Linked DNA regions of Homo sapiens: region 1 is linked to region 2. The links come from fine-mapping of genetic effects on gene expression. A gene starts in region 2. The other region holds a variant in brackets. All regions are shown on one strand. Distances are from middle to middle.

Evidence for each region. PIP is the estimated chance that this variant, and not a neighbour inherited with it, causes the effect.
Region 1: its variant is fine-mapped to the expression of CDC5L in whole blood (INTERVAL, PIP above 0.99). The same link has a PIP of 0.9 or more in lung.

Annotation. Positions count from the first base shown.
Region 1 is chr6:44,434,524-44,443,728 of GRCh38, reverse strand. The region is part of intron 14 of CDC5L (cell division cycle 5 like); the gene reads right to left. MIR4642 (microRNA 4642) reads right to left here and starts at 8,088; the gene lies at 8,007-8,088. The variant C/T (reference allele first, on the strand shown) is at 4,997.
Region 2 is chr6:44,382,821-44,392,025 of GRCh38, reverse strand. CDC5L (cell division cycle 5 like) reads right to left here and starts at 4,320. Exons shown (of 16, transcript NM_001253.4): 1 at 4,158-4,320; 2 at 1,655-1,758. The coding sequence starts at 4,202. LOC124901323 (a long non-coding RNA gene) reads left to right here and starts at 4,107. Exons shown (of 4, transcript XR_007059595.1): 1 at 4,107-4,987; 2 at 5,857-5,976; 3 at 6,497-6,645; 4 at 6,915-7,464. RefSeq lists an enhancer at 4,239-4,438.

The sequences.
Region 1 (9,205 bases), 52 kb before region 2:
AACTAAGAACTTCCACAAAGAGACAGAAAATATTAAAAAGTATCAATGAGAAAACATAGATCTGAAAAATACCAAAACTGAACTGAAAAATTCAATATAGGGGTTTGACAGCAGACTAGATCAAGCAGATGAAAGGATCAGTAAACTACAAGACAGGTCACTGGAAACCATCTAATCTCAGGAGCAAAAAGAAAAAATAATGAAAAAGAGTGACTTAAGAGACTTATGGGACACCATCATGGAGAACAACTTATGCATTATCAGGTGCCAGAAGGAGAAAAGAACAACTAACATATTCAAATAAATAATGGCAGAAAAATTCCCAAGGCTGGGGAAGGAAATGGAAAGCTAGATCCAGGAAGCCCAAAAGACACCAAATAAGATAAATTCAAAGAGACCCACCAAGACACATCACAATTAAAATGTCAAAAACTAATGGCAGAGTATTGAAAACTGCAAGAAAAAAGCATATCACCATGTATAAAGGAACCTCCATAAGACTATCAGATAGCTTCTCAGCAGAAACCTTTCAGGCCAGAAGGGAGTGGGATGATATATTTAAAAATAGAAAAAAAAGAAAAGAAAAGAAAAGGAAGGAAGGAAAAGAAAAGAAAAGAAGGAAGGAAGGAAAAGAAAAGAAAGAGAGACAGGGACAGGACAGGGCAGGAGAGGAGAGAGAAGAAAGAAAAAGAAAGAGAAGAAAGAGAGAGAAAAAAAAACTGCCAACCAAGAATACTATACCCAGCAACCCTGTATTTCAAAACCAAATGGATGATAAAGACTTTTTCAATCAATAGCTAACTTTATCACCACTAGACCTGCATTACAGGAAATGCTAAAAGGAGTTCTTCAAGCTGAAGGAAGAGAACACTAATTAATAACATGAAAATTTATTAAAGTATAAAACTTTTTTTGTATATTTTGGATATTAACCCCTTATCCAGGCCAGGGCATGGTATATACATTGTCATATCCAAACATTCTAATACTCTAATGGCAGTGAGTAAATCAATTATATCTCTAGTATAAAGGTTAAAAGGCAAAACTATTAACAACTGAAGTGCAACAATTTGTTAAGGGAATAAATATTATATAAAAATTTTAAGTATAACATCAGAAATACAAAATATGGGAGAAAGGGGTGTAAAAGTGTATAGTTTGTGTATGCAATTAAAATTAAGTTGTTATCAACTTAAAATACCGTTATATAAGCTGTTTTATGTAAGCCTCAAGTTAACCACAAAGCAAAAGTCTGTAACAGACAGACAAGAGATAAAAAGATAAAATCCAAAGCATACCACTACAGAAAGCCATTAAGACACACACACACACACACACACACACACACACACAACATACACACACACACAAGCAAGAGAGGAGGAATAGAACAAAGGATCTATAAACAGAAAACAATTGGCACTGGTTAAGTCCTCACCTATCAATAATTACTCTGTAAATGGATTACATTCCCCAATCAAAAGGCATAGAGTAGGCCAGGCATGGCGGCTCATGCCTGTAATCCCAGCACTTTGGGAGGCTGAGGTGGGTCTATCATGAGATCAAGAGATCAATACCATTCTGGCCAACACAGTGAAATCCCGTCTCTACTAAAAATATAAAAATTAGCCGGGCATGGTAGCGGGCGCCTGTAGTCCCAGCTACTCGGGAGGCTGAGGCAGCAGAATAGCTTGAACCCAGGAGGTAGAGGTTGCAGTGAGCACAGATCGCACCACTGCACTCCAGCCTGGCGACAGAAGGAGGCTCTGTCTCAAAAAAAAAAAAAAAAAAAAAAAGAACAAGACCTTACAAAGTGCTGGGATTACAGGTGTGAGCCACCACTCCCGGCCTGGATAAGGGGTTAATATCCAAAATATACAAACAAACAAAAAAATTCAAACTACTCAATAAAAAACAAGTAACCCTATTTTTAAAATGGGGAAAGGACCTGAATAGACATTTCTCAAAAGACGACATACAAGTGGTCAACAGGTACATGAAAAAAATGCTTAACATCTCTAATCATCAGAGAAATGCAAATCAAAACCACAATAAGGTATTACCTTACACCTGTTAGACTGGTTATTTAAAAAAATGAAAAACAGTATGTGTTGGCAAGGGATGTGGAGAAAAGAGAACCCCTGTTCACTGTTGGTGGTATTGTAAATTAGTACAGCCATTATGGAAAACAGTATGGAGGTTCCTCAAAAAACTGAAAACAGAATTATCATTCAATCCAGCCATTCCACTTCTGGCTATACATATCCAAAGGAATTGAAATCAGTATGTCAAAGAGATGTCTGCACTTCCACGTTCTTTACAGCATTATCCACAACAGCCAAGACACGGATTTTTAAAATATGGTATACACATAAAACGGAATACTATTCAGTCTTTAAAAAACAGGAAATCCTGTTATTTGCAACAACAGATGGACACAGAGGACATTCTGCTAACTATGATAAGCCAGGCACAGAAAGCCAAATATCATATGATGTTAACTTGTATATGGAATCTAGAAATGTTAATCTCATAGAAGTAGAGAGTACAATGGTGGCTACCAGAGGATACTGGGGTAAAGGGTAGATAGGGAAAGGGGAGATGTTGGTCAAAGGTACAAAGTTTCAGTTAGACGGAAGAATAGGTTCTGGTGATCTATTACATAGCATGGTAATCACAGAATCATGTTTATTTCAAAATAGCTAAAAGAAGGGATTTTTAGGCTGGGCATGGTGGCTCACACCTGTAATCCCAACACTTTGGGAGGCTGAGGTGGATGGATCACTTGAGGTTAGGAGTTCACGACCAGCCTTGCCAAGATGGTGAAACGCCATCTCTATTAAAAATACAAAAATTAGCTAGGCAAGGTGGCACACGCCTGTAGTCCCAGCTACTCCAGAGGCTGAGGTGGGAGAATCGCTTGAACCCAGGAGGCAGAGGTTGCAGTGAACCTAGATCACACCACTGCACTCCAGCCTGGACAACACAGCAAGACTCCATAGCAAAAAAAAAAAAAAAAAGGATTTTAAATATTCTCTCCACAAAGAAGTGGTATGTATTTGAGGGGATTAATATGTTAATTAGCTGATTTAATCACTTCACATATGTGTATGGAAAAAATCACATCTTACTCCATAAACATATGCAATTATTATTTGTCAATTAAAATAGAACTTTTAAAAATATGGCCAGGTGCAGTGGCTCACAACTGTAATCCCAGCACTTTGGAAGGCCACGGTGGGCAGATCACCTGAGGTCAGGAGTTCGAGACCAGCCTGGCCAACATGACAAAACCCCCATCTCTACTAAAAATACAAAATTTAGCCAGGCATGGTGGTGCATACCTGTAGTCCCAGCTACTCGGGAGGCTGAGACAGGAGAATCACTTACACCCAGGAGGCGGAGGTTGCAATGAGCCAAGATCAGGCGACTGCACTCCAGCCTGAGCAACAGAGCAAGATTCCATCTCAAAAAAAAAAAAAAAAAGTCTAAGTCAAGCCCATGGGAGGTGGAGGCAGGCGAGTAACACTGCATGTTATGTGCCTTACAAACATGAGATGGATCTAAAATTAATTTAAATGAAGAAGCTCCTTTAAAACCATTCATTTCTTCAGATTTTTATAAAAGTTAAGCTTTTATTCCTCTGCAATTTACTTGAACAATAAATTCATGAAAACTGTTAATTTCCTTTATAAATGAACCTCTGATAAATCAAACCAAGTTCCATGGCAATGATTATATGTCTCCTAAGGGAGTTAGGATATACTGGTTGAAGGCAGGCAGTACAGTACAGCGGGGTAAGAGTGAGTCACTCTTACAACCCAGCATTGCTGCCCAGCTGTTTTGAGCTGATGCAAGTTATTTAACCTATGTGTCTCCATTTCTCCATCAGTAAAATGGCAGTCATTGCTACAAGTTGTTATGAAGCTTAAATAAGATCATAGACATAAAAAGCCTCAGCTGTCCAGTGCCTGGCACAGAATAAGCAGTCAACAAATGTCAGGTCTGATTACCATTATTATTTTCCAGATACTAAGAGTTCAAACATTTTGCTCTTTTCCCTAACAACTAAGGGAGTAAAAGGATGAGGCTTTAAAAGCTTCATTAAAATTCCAACTTCAATATAAGTCTATGTGGACCCTTTCCTGGAAACACAGCAAGGAAAAACAGCTGGTCCTTCTTTTAAGTGAGGAGTTTGCCCCTTGTGGACCACAAGACCAAACAACACACACTGGACCTCTGTCCTACAGTGTAAAAATAGCGTTAGAACATGGACTCGCGGTGCTTCCCAACTCTATGGGAAGATTTTCTAACCCTGAAGTTCAAATGAGGTGAAGGAAGTATCTAAGTAATTCCACTCCCAGTATTTCCCAAGAGAAATGAAAACATGTCCACACGAAAACCTGTACACGAATGTTCATAGCAACATTATTCATAATAGGTAAAAGTAGAAGCAACCCAAATATCCATCAACTGATAAATGGATAAATAAAATGTGGTATTATCCACACAATGGAATGGTACTCAGCCATAAAAACAAATACTAATATATACTACTACATGGATGAACTTTGAAAACATTATGTTAAGTAAAAGAAGCCCATCACAAAAGACCACATATTACATGATTCCACTTATGTGAAATATCCAAAATAGGCAAATCTATTGATACAAAAAGTAGATTAATGGTTTCCTAGGGGTGAGCAGGTTGGGGGGAATGAGGAGTAACTGCTGATACAGAATCTCTTTCTGAGGTGATGTAAATGTTCCAATAATGGTTGCACAACTATGTCAATTTACTAAAAGCCACTGAACTATACACTTTAAATTGTCTTAACTTTATGGTATGTAATTTATATCTCAGTAAGGATATTATAAAAATAAGGTATACAAGGAGTAGAAACATTACCTCCACAGGAGAAAAAAAAATTCCTCATCTTCAATTCTTCTGGATACAAAATGCAAAAATACTTTTCCCCAGAAATCAAAAGCAGTA[C/T]TTTCTAAGTTCTAGAAAGGCAGTAGTGGGATGGAGTTAGAGTTTAAAAAAAAAAAAAAAAAAAAAAGACAAAACTTCCACCACATAAATTTTACAACACCATCAAGGAAAGAAGACAATAATTTGTACTCACTCTCTTCCACTTCAAATATTTCTGGAGTATGTCTTTTTACGCCAGTGGTTTTCAACCACAGCTAAACTTCAGAATTGCCAGTGGAGTTTTTAAAATCTACCAGCACCAGTGCCCTAACTCCAGAGACTCTGATTTAAATGGTCTCAGATCTTTGTGTCCTTAAAAACTCCCAAATGATTCTAACAGGCAATTAGGATGTCAAACTCTGTTTCAGCCAGAGTCATTACACAAGCTAGGTATCAGTTGTTTTCTCAACTATATCTACCAAAAAGTCCTCATTTCCAATAAGATATGAACAACTAAATCCATCAAGTTACATTCAAGTTCCTTCTTCTATAATTTAACATGTTCAGCCAGGCAACAGTGGTTCACACCTGTAATCCTAGCACTTTGGGAGGCCAAGGCAGGTGGATCGCTTGAGCCCAGGAGTTCGAGACCAACCTGGACAATAGAGTGAAACACTGTCTCTCAAAAAATACAAAAATTAGCCAGACATAGTGGCACATGCCTGTGGTTCCAGCTACTTGGGAGACTGAGGCGGGAATCACCCAAGCCTGAGAGGTTGGAGGCAGCAGTGAGCCATGATCGCGCCACTGCACTCCAGCCTGGTCAACAGAGAAAGACCCTGTCTCCAAAAAAGTAAAACAATTCAGCATGTTCTAAGAATACCCATTATTACATACTCCAATCACATTTGGATTCAAACACACATTCCAAAACCTTAACAGCAAAGAATTTCAAATTAATACATATAATGCTTTTTAAAAATTAATCATACGAATTAACATTTTCATTGATAACTCAGCTATACACTATGCTCCATGGATAGTCCATTTCCAGTTTGGTTTTACAGCATAATACCTATACTCAGAAACTGCTTAATTAGTCATCAAGGTACGTTTAGTATTATCAGTACCCTGTATCTTGGAATTACCTCACCTCATCCAATGGAGTCATTTCTTATACTCAAACCATCAGAGATTTTAAAACTTCAAAGTTGTTAGCTTTCCTTTAATGCCAACAATTTTATTTCATTTAGCTCAAGCTTTGCAAGTCTTCTGGCTCAAATATTGCGCTAAGGTTCCAAGCAAATATGGACATAAATTGTACAAAAATTAACTTAAGCACAGAAAAAAATTAATTTAGCCAAATAACTATATAGTCATTAAACATATAAAGAAGAAATGGACTACAGCTTTTAATATTCAAGTTGAACTTAGTTATCTTACGCCTGTCATTTGATTATTAAAACACAAAGGAGGGTATCTGCATGCTTTGTAAAATGCTCAACCTATGACTGCTCAATATGCTTTAAGAGGAAAAATCCTAACCTACAGTTTCTGGTCTTTTTCAAGCCAATAAACCTCAAGCATGAAATGTACATGCATACAGGGACAGGACTAGCTTAAATCAGCCCAGCTCCTCCCAACACCCATCCACACACAGAAACAACACTGAGGTACAAGAGAGTATAAAACTTTATTTCCTAAAATTCAAAGAAAAAGGGAAAATCAGACTCAGATTTAACCAGTCAGATTTCTAAATTAATTTTTTAAAACAAGCACTAGCAACTGCCCTGATGGACACCTTACTTTAGAAGCCACCACACTGTGCTTTAAATATGTACTGACAAAAAATTTCTAATAGTCTTAAATAAAATGAAGTTCACTATCACTGATAGGAATTTAAAGTAGACCGACACTTGATACAATTAAAGCTGACTTGATCAAATATGAAAGGGTAAACTTCAATTCAAAGCAGGAAATTAAGAATATATCCACATACAAATCGGTAGGAAGGCCAAGCTGACAAATTTCACGCACCGTAATTCTATTTCATAATACGGTATCTAAAATTTGCTTCAAAATAATAGTGGAAGGGGGGATAACAGGGGAAACAAGAGTGGCTATGATTGATGACTGTCATAGCTGGGTGAGAATACATGAGGATTTATTATACCAGTATACTCTGGGGTACATTTGAAAATTCTTATAAGATTTTTTAAAAGTCAAATTCAATATTGTATCTACTCTAAAGGCTACTTTCTCAAGACCATACACCACAAATCATGAAACATCAATGTAGTGAAATATAATGAGACATTAAAATTTACAAATATGTCAACTATTTCAACACACCAAAATGTATACATGAAATGTTAGATTAAAATCCACGATGTAAAATCTATTTACGCTAACCAAAATCTGAGTTTTAAGCTTCACTCAGTACAACAATCTCTCTCCTAAAATCAGCCCATGTCTAAAACTTCAGACATTCCTCAAAATTTACAGAATATAAAAACTTAGCCACCCGATTGTTTAAAGTGAGGTTAGTTCCTAATACCTCATAGTATCAAACCAAGTATAATCCAATTTAGGTAACTCTAAGGGTGATATAGACTTGAAGACACATGGGAGGAGAATTCCCATTTACTAACACCTGCTATTTGCTAATCATACAGTATCTCATTTAATCTTATATTATCTCAAACTCATGCTTCCATCAAATAAAAACAATTACTCGGCTGGGCACGGTGGCTCACACCTGTAATCCCAGCACTTTGGGAGGCCAAGGTGGGTGGATCACTTGAGGTCAGGAGTTCAAGACCAGCCTGACCCATGGTGAAACCCGTCTCTACTAAAATACAAAAATTAGCCGAGCGTGGTGGCAGGCACCTGTAATCTCAGCTACTTGGGAGGCTGAGGCAAGAGAATTGCTTGAACCCTGGAGGCAGAGGTTGCAGCGAGCCAAGATCGTGCCATTGCACTCAGCCTGGGCAACAGGAACAAAATTCCATCTCAAAAAAAAAAAACAAAAACTATTACTCACCCAATTTTACAGATAAGGAAATGTGAGACCCAGAGAGGTTAAGTAGGGCACAACTGCTGGCATCATCACTGAGTGGCTTTGTGGCTTGCCCTAGGCCACAGCCACCAGGGGACGATGCCATGCAGTTGTGCCCTATTTGAAAGTCCAATACACTGGTCACACCACTGCTAATAAACTGACTGTCCCCCTCCTTGGCTCAGCCCCCTGAAATGCAAACATGCCTGAAAAAATTTAAGCTGTGGAAATGAATGGCTTAAATTTCACCAGACAGCTCCCTGAAAAATAAATTATTCTAGACACATGTAAACAAGAAATAAGACCTTAATTAGCAATTCTGCCCATCATTCTTACCCTGATTTAGACTCTCACCTACATGTACCCACTTATAAGAATTTTGACACCTGAGAAAAGCTTTTACTTTCCTCAGTTTGTATTTTAAAATTCTAAATTCTTTTATTAACAAGCTATAAAACTATAAGAAAACAAATATCTCTCAAAAAAATTATACAGAAAAAAAGGTTCCACTTACCACCTTTTTAGAAGTAGGGTGGAATATAACTAGTGTTTAATCATATTTACAACTATTAAATGAAAAATGTAGAATATGATCCCAGTTTAGTTTTAAACACCTTCATCCAAACATTTAAAAAAAAAAAAAAGATATATGGGAGTATGTGGGGGCAGGGGGGGCGGGGTGCATATATACACCACAATGTTTAAGGTGATTATGTCTGGATAGTAGGTTCCTTTTCTTATGTTTTCTACTTCTTTTAAAACTTCTACAAAGCACAGGTATTATTTATAGAAAGACGCCTAGAAATGTTATTTTTTTAAATGCATAGAAGAGAAACTGTCTAAAAAAGACTGGCCAGAGACCAATGGAAAACTGATGGTCCCCAGGAGATGAATCAGTGGAACCATAAGTGTTTCCTCGGGTCATTACAAAAGGGAGCTGTATGGGACTTATGAAAGTGTAACTGTTACTTTCAAGCTAAGTTTGTTAAGGTTACTAAGCTTAAGTAATTCCAAAATAAACACATTATCCTTGGGTCTCCAATACTGTCTTCAGTAAAAGTCCGTTACAGTGAGGTTCAGAAACATTAAGAGCACCCCTCACTGAAACTCTTGCTTGGGGGCCCAGAATATAACCTTATACCACTGGAAAAACAGGTTTAAGGATACCCAAAATAAACAGGCAGTCAATGGGAGCTCCACTTCCCAGTCCATCAATCAGCAATATGATCCCA
Region 2 (9,205 bases):
CCTAAAAATCATCTTCCTCTTAACAGCCAATTTCTACATTCAAAAAGCCTCACTCTGTCGCCCAGGCTGGAGTGCAGTGGCAGCATCTCAGCTCACTACAACCTCCACCTCCTGGGTTCAACCGATCCTCCCACCTCAGCCTCCCAAGTAGCCACCACGCCTGGCTAATTTTTGTACTTTTAGAAGAGACGGGGTTTTCACCATGTTGGCCAGGCTGGTCTCAAACTCCTGACCTCAGGTGATCCCAGCCTTGGCCTCCCGAAGTGCTAGGCTTACAGATGTGAGCCACCACGCCTGGCCAATTTCTACATTCTGATACTTTCCCCTAACCAGGTGCCTAGGAAATTAGGTCATTCTTATACAATCCAAAGTATTTTCCTAATGCCACATGACTTGGGGATGGTGCTAAATAACTCATGCCAAGAACACCCTAAATAGCTTCACGTGTCCACTACCCTATGATTTAAGAGGTGACACCAGCCGGGCGCGGTGGCTCACGCCTGTAATCCCAGCACTCTGGGAGGCCGAGGTGGATGGATCACGAGGTCAGGAGATCAAGACCATCCTGGCTAACACGGCGAAACTCCGTCTCTACTAAAAATACAAAAAATTAGCCGGGAATGGTGGCAGGAGCCTGTAGTCCCAGCTACTCAGGAGGCTATGGCAGAAGAATGGCGTGAACCCGGGAGGCAAAGCTTGCAGTGAGCTGAGATCACGCCACTGCACTCCAGCCTGGGCGACAGAGCAAGACTCCGTCCCAAAAAATAAAAATAAAAAAGAGGTGACACCACAGGTTCAGAGTTGGCTTATATCTTTTAATATATATAACATATTAAATATGTTTAATATATACAATATATAACATATTAAATATGTTTAATATATAATATATAACATATTAAATATGTTTAATATATAATATATAACATATTAAATGTTTAATATATAATATATAACATATTAAATATGTTTAATATATAATATATAACATATTAAATATGTTTAATATATAATATATAACATATTAAATATGTTTAATATATAATATATAACATATTAAATATGTTTAATATATAATATATAACATATTAAATATGTTTAATATATAATATATAACATTAAGTATGTTTAATATATAATATATAACATATTAACTATAAAATATATAATATTTCAACTGTATTATGAGGAAACTCAACTACTGTAGGCTTACTTAGAAAATTAGCCATTATTTATCATTTATTTCTTTGAGCAAGTAATTTCTAAAACAGCTAACTTATGCACTTTTAGAACACAATTAATTTACAAGCTGGGGCTCATCTGTCCCTGAAAGTAGACTTTGTATGCTTCACAAAGCACTCTCAAATACATTAACCCATTTAGATGACAACTCACATCTCTATCAGTCAGGACCAAGTATTATTATCCCTAATTGGGAGAAAACAAGGGCAGGGGAGAGGGATAGAAAAATGGCTTGCCTAAGACCACACAGGAAGCAAGTGACAGCTAAGTCAAACACCCAACTTCCATCTCCCACTCCATGCCTTGTTATATTACAATGTCTGCTTTCTTTGATAAGGTTCACAGAGTTGACATTTTCCATCATCATAATTAAGCTCCTTTTCTGTTTTCCACTTATTAAACTGATACATACCATCTGGCTTTGCACTGCTTTGCTGATTTTCTATGCAGCAATGAGGCAATCCTAGACCACTGATTTTTCCCATATTTCATTACCGCTGCTTTCAGAATTTCATCCTAAAAAAAATTGCCAAAGAGTACATTCAGTCACAAAACTCCAAGTGGGAAAAGACAAAATTTAAATTAACTCTGATAGGGCTATTGGAGAAAGAGACATATAACATGCACATACACACCACCTAGGTTAAAAGACTAAGGATGAAAACCTCATTAACTATAATAACAGCAACCAAGAATTGAGAAATTAAGAAGAAATCCCTTAGAAAGACAGCTACCCACCCTTACACCACACTCTCCAATAAATTGGGAGTGGGAACAGCCCAATCTGAGAAACCCTACTTTATGACAAAAATTAAGAAAAAGTATTCTTCAACGTGTGGCTGTCCTTCTCTTCAAAAAGGATAACTAAAAAACACAACAACAACAAAAATGTATAACTCATTCATTTATACACTCACTCAAAAAACACTTCCTGAACATCTACCTTGAAACATCTACCTTTCCCTTGGGGAAAGGTCTTATCAAACAGGACATATCCAGGCCTCAAGAAGCAAGTTGGGACTCTGGTGAATATATTCTCCAATCCAAGCCTCCTGTCTCAAGTTTATACATGGCATTTCCCCTCCAGCCCCTTAACCCCAACTATGACCCAAGAATCCACATCTCAGGTCTAACCTAAGAATTACATATTTCTACCCCAACCCCACTAGTCAGCTCTCCTTCCAATTTCCCCCCATCTCTAGATACCATTTCACCAGGGCACCCATTGCCATGTGGAATGCACCAACCTCAAGGAAGCCTGGCAAGCCAAGCCAAAGACAAGAAAGTTAATGGAGCCATAGATGCATGCACTTAGGCGATTTTACTTCTAGGCTTTTTTTCCCACATTGGATTTGAGGTACGTGCCTCTTGAGATACCCCACTCCATCCTCTACATCTCCCATGATCAAAGATACTTTTTAAAAAGACTGCAGAGCTTTGACCACTGCATAGGAATCCTACTGTTACTTGATTTTATATCTGTCTCTCCCTCAGAAGTCATCTCTTCTCCAATTTAAACAGTCTGGTTCCCTCGGTGGAAGCTGAGGCAGTTTTCATTGTCTTTTTTGTAACTTGGTTGCAGTACAACTACACTTAAACACATTTTCAATTAAATAGATACAGCAGATACCTACTCTACTTGATTCATTCTGCAAATACCTGTCGAGCAACCTACTTCATGTTGGTTACTGTCCTAGGTCCTAGGGATACCAAGACCTGGTCCTCTCGCCATGCTGTCTGGTGAGGTGAAAGAGCAACTAGCTCTTACTCAGAGGCTACTATGTGCCCTACTCTGATCTAAATATTCCAAACGTATTAACTCGTGTAATCCTCAAGAGAGGTTAAGTATTATTATCCCAATTTAGAAAAAGTAGAAAACTGAGGCTTTCAGAAGTTAAGAAACTTACCGAGTACCACACAGAGGATGTGATGCTTACAAAAAGACAAAGCAAGTTTTAACAAACGGAAGAAAAAGGTATCATGAGAATATCGGGGGTGCAATTAATTCTTACAGAGATTCCAAGAAGTGTTTCCGAACTAGGTTTGAAGGATGATCAGAAAGATGTCAAGCGCTAGGAAGGCAAAAGATGTAAAAAAAAAAAAAAAAAGAAGCCATAAAATGTAACGAAAAAAAGACACAGAGCATGAAAAGACATGATGTGCTCCAGAAACTGATAAATTCGGTACACTCTGAACACAAAACGCACTAAAATCTAATTTCTATTTCACTCCCACTCTACTGCCCTTTGGCTCACCAATGGCACTATCCACTACGTTTCTGGAAACAGAGACTATCCTAGGCCAGTTTTTCCTTTCTGGCTTCTATCTAGGCAAAGGCAGTGACAGAAAGAGACAGACCTTGGGATCTGTCGAGATGGCAGACAGGTTATGCCCTGATAACAGATAACCAGAGAGATGCGGGCATAAACGGGCTCTCTGAACCTGGCACTCAAACTGCTTCCCCTCTGCAAGGAAGTCAATGGAGACACAAAGTTGTGGCCACGGCAACTTCTTTATTTCTGAGTATGAGACAGAGTCGTGGTGCCTGGACTAAGAGTGGATGGTGCCCCGGGGGACCAACTCTGGCTGAGTTGGAACTCTGAGTTCTTCCCGGGGCCGGGGGGGGCGGGGGGGCGGGGTGGGAGGGGGCGTATTCAAGTCAACAAATGTTCACTCAGGGCCTAACAAGTGAGCTTGGAGCCGAGTAGCCAGGTGGTGACATCACGGTCCCTGTCCTACTGGCGCTCGCACAACACGGGGCCAGACACACGGAAAGGGCCCCAAGGGTCAGCCCCCGGGCTGCCCTCCACGCAGACCCCACAGGGTCTCCTCGTCGCCCCCCCGACCTCCGCGCGCGTGCGCACAAGCTGCTAGAGGGAGCGGCGGGCAGCGGACGGCGGGAAAAGGAGACTTACCTCGGTATTCCTCCATACGCCCCCCTTGATCATAATTCGAGGCATCTTGGCGGCAGGGTGTCTCGGCAAGCAGCCGAGAGGAGCTTCAGAGAAGTAGTAACAGCGATTGGGCCACCGGACTCAAAGCCGCCACTTCCTCCAAGCGCGACCTTCTGCTTTGAAGATCTGCGCAAGCGCAAGGTGGGAGGGGGCGCAGAATAGCAAGTCTCGCGAGATATTGGGTGGCTGAAAGGGAAAAAGTGTCTTGTGGAAGCTCAGCTGCAGGAAGACTAACACAAAACCATCAAACCACTCTGGCCAAAGCGCCTTACGCCCCGCGCATGTCCAAAACAGAATGGAAGAAACTACGGCTCTCGCGAGATAGCGGCGGTAGCGCTTGGCTGGGAACTTAGTGGTGGGATTGATCGTGACGTCACCGAGTGGCAGAGGGTGGGAACGTCACGCGTACGGAATTTCAGCACAGTTGCTCCGAAGAAGGCTTTGTTAATTTATTAATCTAGCCCTTTCAAGTATTTCAGTAATAGGAATTTATTCACAGAATACTCAGGAAAATCCAGTAGTTTATTTAAGGCTCAGTTTCCTAACCTGTAAAATAGAGATCATAGTAATGCCAACCTCACAGGATTGTCGTAAGGGCTAAATGAGATCATAGACCCAGCACAGTATCTGATCCATAATAACTGCTGCAAAACAATAGCAGCTATTACTGCAAGGAGGGCAACGCCAACTTCACCCCGTCCCCAGGTGATCCAGGCTTCTTCCAGAAACCTGCAGAAACGTCACGTCAGAGTTTTTAATTCATCGCCCAGTCTGGATTAATAATGCCATTGGTACGCACTGGTATTAGACAAAGTCGAGTTGGGTTGAAATATTGTGAAATCTTGGCTTTCTCATAAGTTTGGGTAATAACCTTACTGAATCTCAGTATCCTCATCTGAAAAGTGGAGCTAACAATACCCGCCTCGTAAATGAGGAGGCAGATTAACTGAAACATAACTAAAACCCAGTGAGGTAGGGATTGGCAAACTCTCTGCTACCCCACCCCAATTACTCATGCAGTCTCCTTCATCCTTCCAGAACATCTCTGGCTCCATCCCTGGAAAATATCAAAATATTTAGTGGGTTGGGAAATGCCCTATTTATAGTACTTAGTATTTATATAGTGCCTATCTCTTTATATTTCTTCATTTCTCCGTTTGCCTCTTCTGGAAGAGCTACAGAATTTTCTTTTTCCTTTTAGCTTTTATTTACACACATTCTGTGCAATTATGGTCAGCAAGAGGGCATTTTCCATGGCCACCCTGGTAGTGTTTGCCACTCAAAGGTTTATGCTGGCGGGCAGCCCGCCCTTGAGCTGTTTACCCACTGTGTGGTGTATAAGAAACCATTGGACCTGTGGCCAGTTAAACTCAAACAAAATGTTTTCATTTGGACCTCTCCTGTAATGGGGCGGTTTTTTTTTAATTTGTTATATTTAATTTTTGTGGGTACATAGTACACACATATTTATGGGGTACATGAGATATTTTGATACTGGCATACAACACATAATAATCACATCAGGGTAAATGGGGTATCCATCATCTCAAGTGTTTATCTTTTGTTTTACAAACAATCCAATTATAATCTTTTAGTTAATTTAAATGTACAATTAAATTATTTTTTACTATAGTCACCCTGTTGTGCTATCAAATACTAGGTCTTCGAGATTTTAACACTGGAGCATAGAGGAGGTCAGTCTCTACTGACTGCTGAACATCCAACACGTGACACCCAGGAGTTGTCTACCACCATGTTTTGGACTAAGGGAAAAAAGCAGGTAAAGAGAGAGATGTAAGTCCTGACCATGTCAGAGTACCTGGATCCAGCATGTTCCTGAGTCCCAGCTGCATTCCTGTCCTTGCATTCTGATTATTAGTTTCCTATTTGTGTTAGCCACTTGGAATTGGGTTTCTATTATTTGTAAGGAAGAGTCCTAACAATTCCAGAGATGGACCAATACTCTGTCAGAGGCCTTTCAGATCTCACATTCCAAGAGTTGATGAAGGCTTCTCCCTCCCACTCAGGGCCACCTCTTTACCATATGTTACTTTTGTGAGAACTAGAAAAAGGTGCCCCTTCCTCAAGACACTTTATGCCACATGCTGGAAAATTGTCACAAAATACTGGTGTTCTGAGAACAGGGCACTCTATTACAAGAAAATTGGATCTACCATCTCCACTATGTGAATTCCACCCCTAGAGACATGCATTGTACAACTTACTCATCCAGGTAAAACAGCCCTGTCAACTGTCCCTCATTTCACCTTTGAACATGCAGATTGTATATTCCCTTTCAGAATTCAGAAAAATGCAACATCATGGAAGTTCCAGGATGTCTGAAACCAGAGCACTGTAGCCACAAACATCAGAACACAAACACACTGTTCTCCAGGATGGCCTGCTTGGCCAGCCTCCCCCACCATACTACTGCAGCCTCACCAGCCAGGTATGGGAACCCTTACAAAGAGGCCACAGGGACTGCCAACAATCTCTTGAGGGACAGCCATAAGAAGCATCTATCGTTAGGCAACCAGACTATATGGTCAGTCACTGTGAATCTTTGGTAAAGTGAGTGGCCACTGCTAAATAGTCTCACTCACCCAAGGCATTTTTCCCCAAACATGTTCCTTAGAACACCAGTTACATAAAATACTCCATTTAAAAAAAAACAAAAAATAAAAAAAAACATGGTTTTTATGTCCTCCCCTCTTGCAGAGTCACTGAAATTAAAGCCTGTAAGAAGCTGTCAGATGAAAAAATCTGTTTCTCCCTGTTGAGAGTTGAATTGTATTCCCCCCAAATAGATATGTTCAAGTCCTAACCCCTGCTACCTGTAAATGTGACCTTATTTGGAAATAGAGTCTTTGCAGATGTAATCAAGTTAAAATGAGATCATACTGGAGTAGGTTGTCCCTAAATCCAATGAGTAGTGTCCTTATAAGTGGAGAAGAAAAAAGATACAGACACACAGGGGGAATATCATGGGAAGAAAGAGGCAGAGATTGGAGTGATGCAGCTCCAAGCCAAGGAATGCCAAGGATTCTGGCAGCCACCAGAAGCCAGGAGAAGGCATGGAACACATTCTCCCTCTGAGCCCCAAGAAGGAGCCAGCCCTGCTGACACTTTGATTTTGGACTCCCAGCCTCCAGAACTGTAAGAGAATACATTTCTCTTGTTTTAAGCCACTTAGTTTATTGTGCTTTCTTGTGGCAGCCCTAGGAAGCTAATACACTCCTTTGTTAATACAGCAGATCCTTGAATAACATCATTTTGTGCAAGATCGTTTCATGATAACATTGATGAGTCCAGGCATGGTGGCTCATGCCCGTAATTCCAACACTCGGGGAGGCCAAGGCAGGAGGATTGCTTGAGCCCAGGAGTTTGAGACCAGCCTGAGCAACATAGTGAGACCCCATCCCTACAAAAATATTAAAAATTAGCTGGGCATGGTGGTGCACACCTGTGATCCCAGCTACCCATGAGGCTGAGATGGGAGGATCACTTGAGCCTGGGTGGTCGAGGCTGCAGTGAGCCATGATCACACCACTGCACTCCACCCTGGGCGAGACCTCATCTCAAAAAAAAAAAAAAATCCGCTTGAGGCCAGGGCCACTGTCTGTGTGGGTTTCTTCCAGATACCCTGGTTTCCTCCCACATCCCAAAGCTGTGCAGGTGAGGTTCATTTGCAAGCCTGCAGTCTGAGTGAGTGTCAGGGTGTGTGAGTGTGCCCTGCAATGGGATGGTGTCCTGTGTGCTGTCCAGAACTGATTCCTGCCTTGTGCCAGGATAGGCTCCGGCCACCTGTAACCCTGAACTGGAATAAGCGGGAGTACATTTCTTGTTTTTATTAATCTTTCTTTTCTTTTCTTTTCTTTGAGACAGAGTCTCACTCTGTGCAGGCTGGAGTGCAGTGCCACAGTCTCGGGTCACTGCAGCCTTGACCCCCACCCCACTGGCTCAAGCAATCTTCCAACTTCAGCCTCCCGAGTAGCTGGGACTACAGGCGTGCACCCCCATGCCTGGCTAAGTTTTGTATTTTTTTGTAGAAATGGGGTTTCACCATGTTGCCCAGGCTGGTCTCAAACTCCTGAGCTCAAGTGATCTGCCCCCCTTGACCTCCCAAGGTGCTGAAATTACAGGTATGAGCCACCGTGCCCAGCCTAATCTTTCTTAAATGTATGCATAGCTTACACTTATTTCAATGTTTAATATTAGAAGTGTTTTGGTCTTTGTTTAGAAGTTCGTTGATGTTTTGTGACCAGAAATATGCCATAGAAACTTAACTCTTGTTTATATCAATTAGCCTATGGTAAAATTGATTACATGATACATCCTTTTGCTTAAAGTTGCAGTTTCCAAAAACCTAACAATGATAAAAATGAGGACTTACTATATAGCATTTCCAAACTAATTTGACCCTAAAAACCTTTTGTGTTATATATCCATTGACACTCAGGAAACACAATTTGGGAAACTCTGGCTCAGGAAAAAGAGGTTAGAAGTCCATCCAACTTACAAAGGGGAACCAGAGATGTTAGCAGGAGGATTTTTAGGTTGCATTGTCCCCATTTCCCTACCCCTCACCCCTCTCTGGGTAGCTGGTTCTGAATGGATTGACATTTACTTAGCAGAGAAAGTAATCAAAATTCTAGTTTCCCTTTCATCCAGTTTTTTCACCACCAAGAAACTATGCAGGAAAGGGCTAAAATTAGGGGCAAAAGCCTATGGCAACAGCAAGGCATAGTTTAGAGGCAGGATTAATGACTCTCACAATCTTCATCATCTCCCCAAATAAACATGCATAATAATTTAAATAAAAATACTGTCCTGCTTTGCAAATGCAGTCATGTGTCAATGACAGGGATACATTCTGAGAAACGCATCGTTAGGTGATTTCACTGTTGTGAGAACATCACAAAATGTACTCACACCAAATCTAGATGCAGTAGTCTATTACACACCTAGGCCATATGGTATATATAACCCTTTGCTCCTAGGCTACAAAC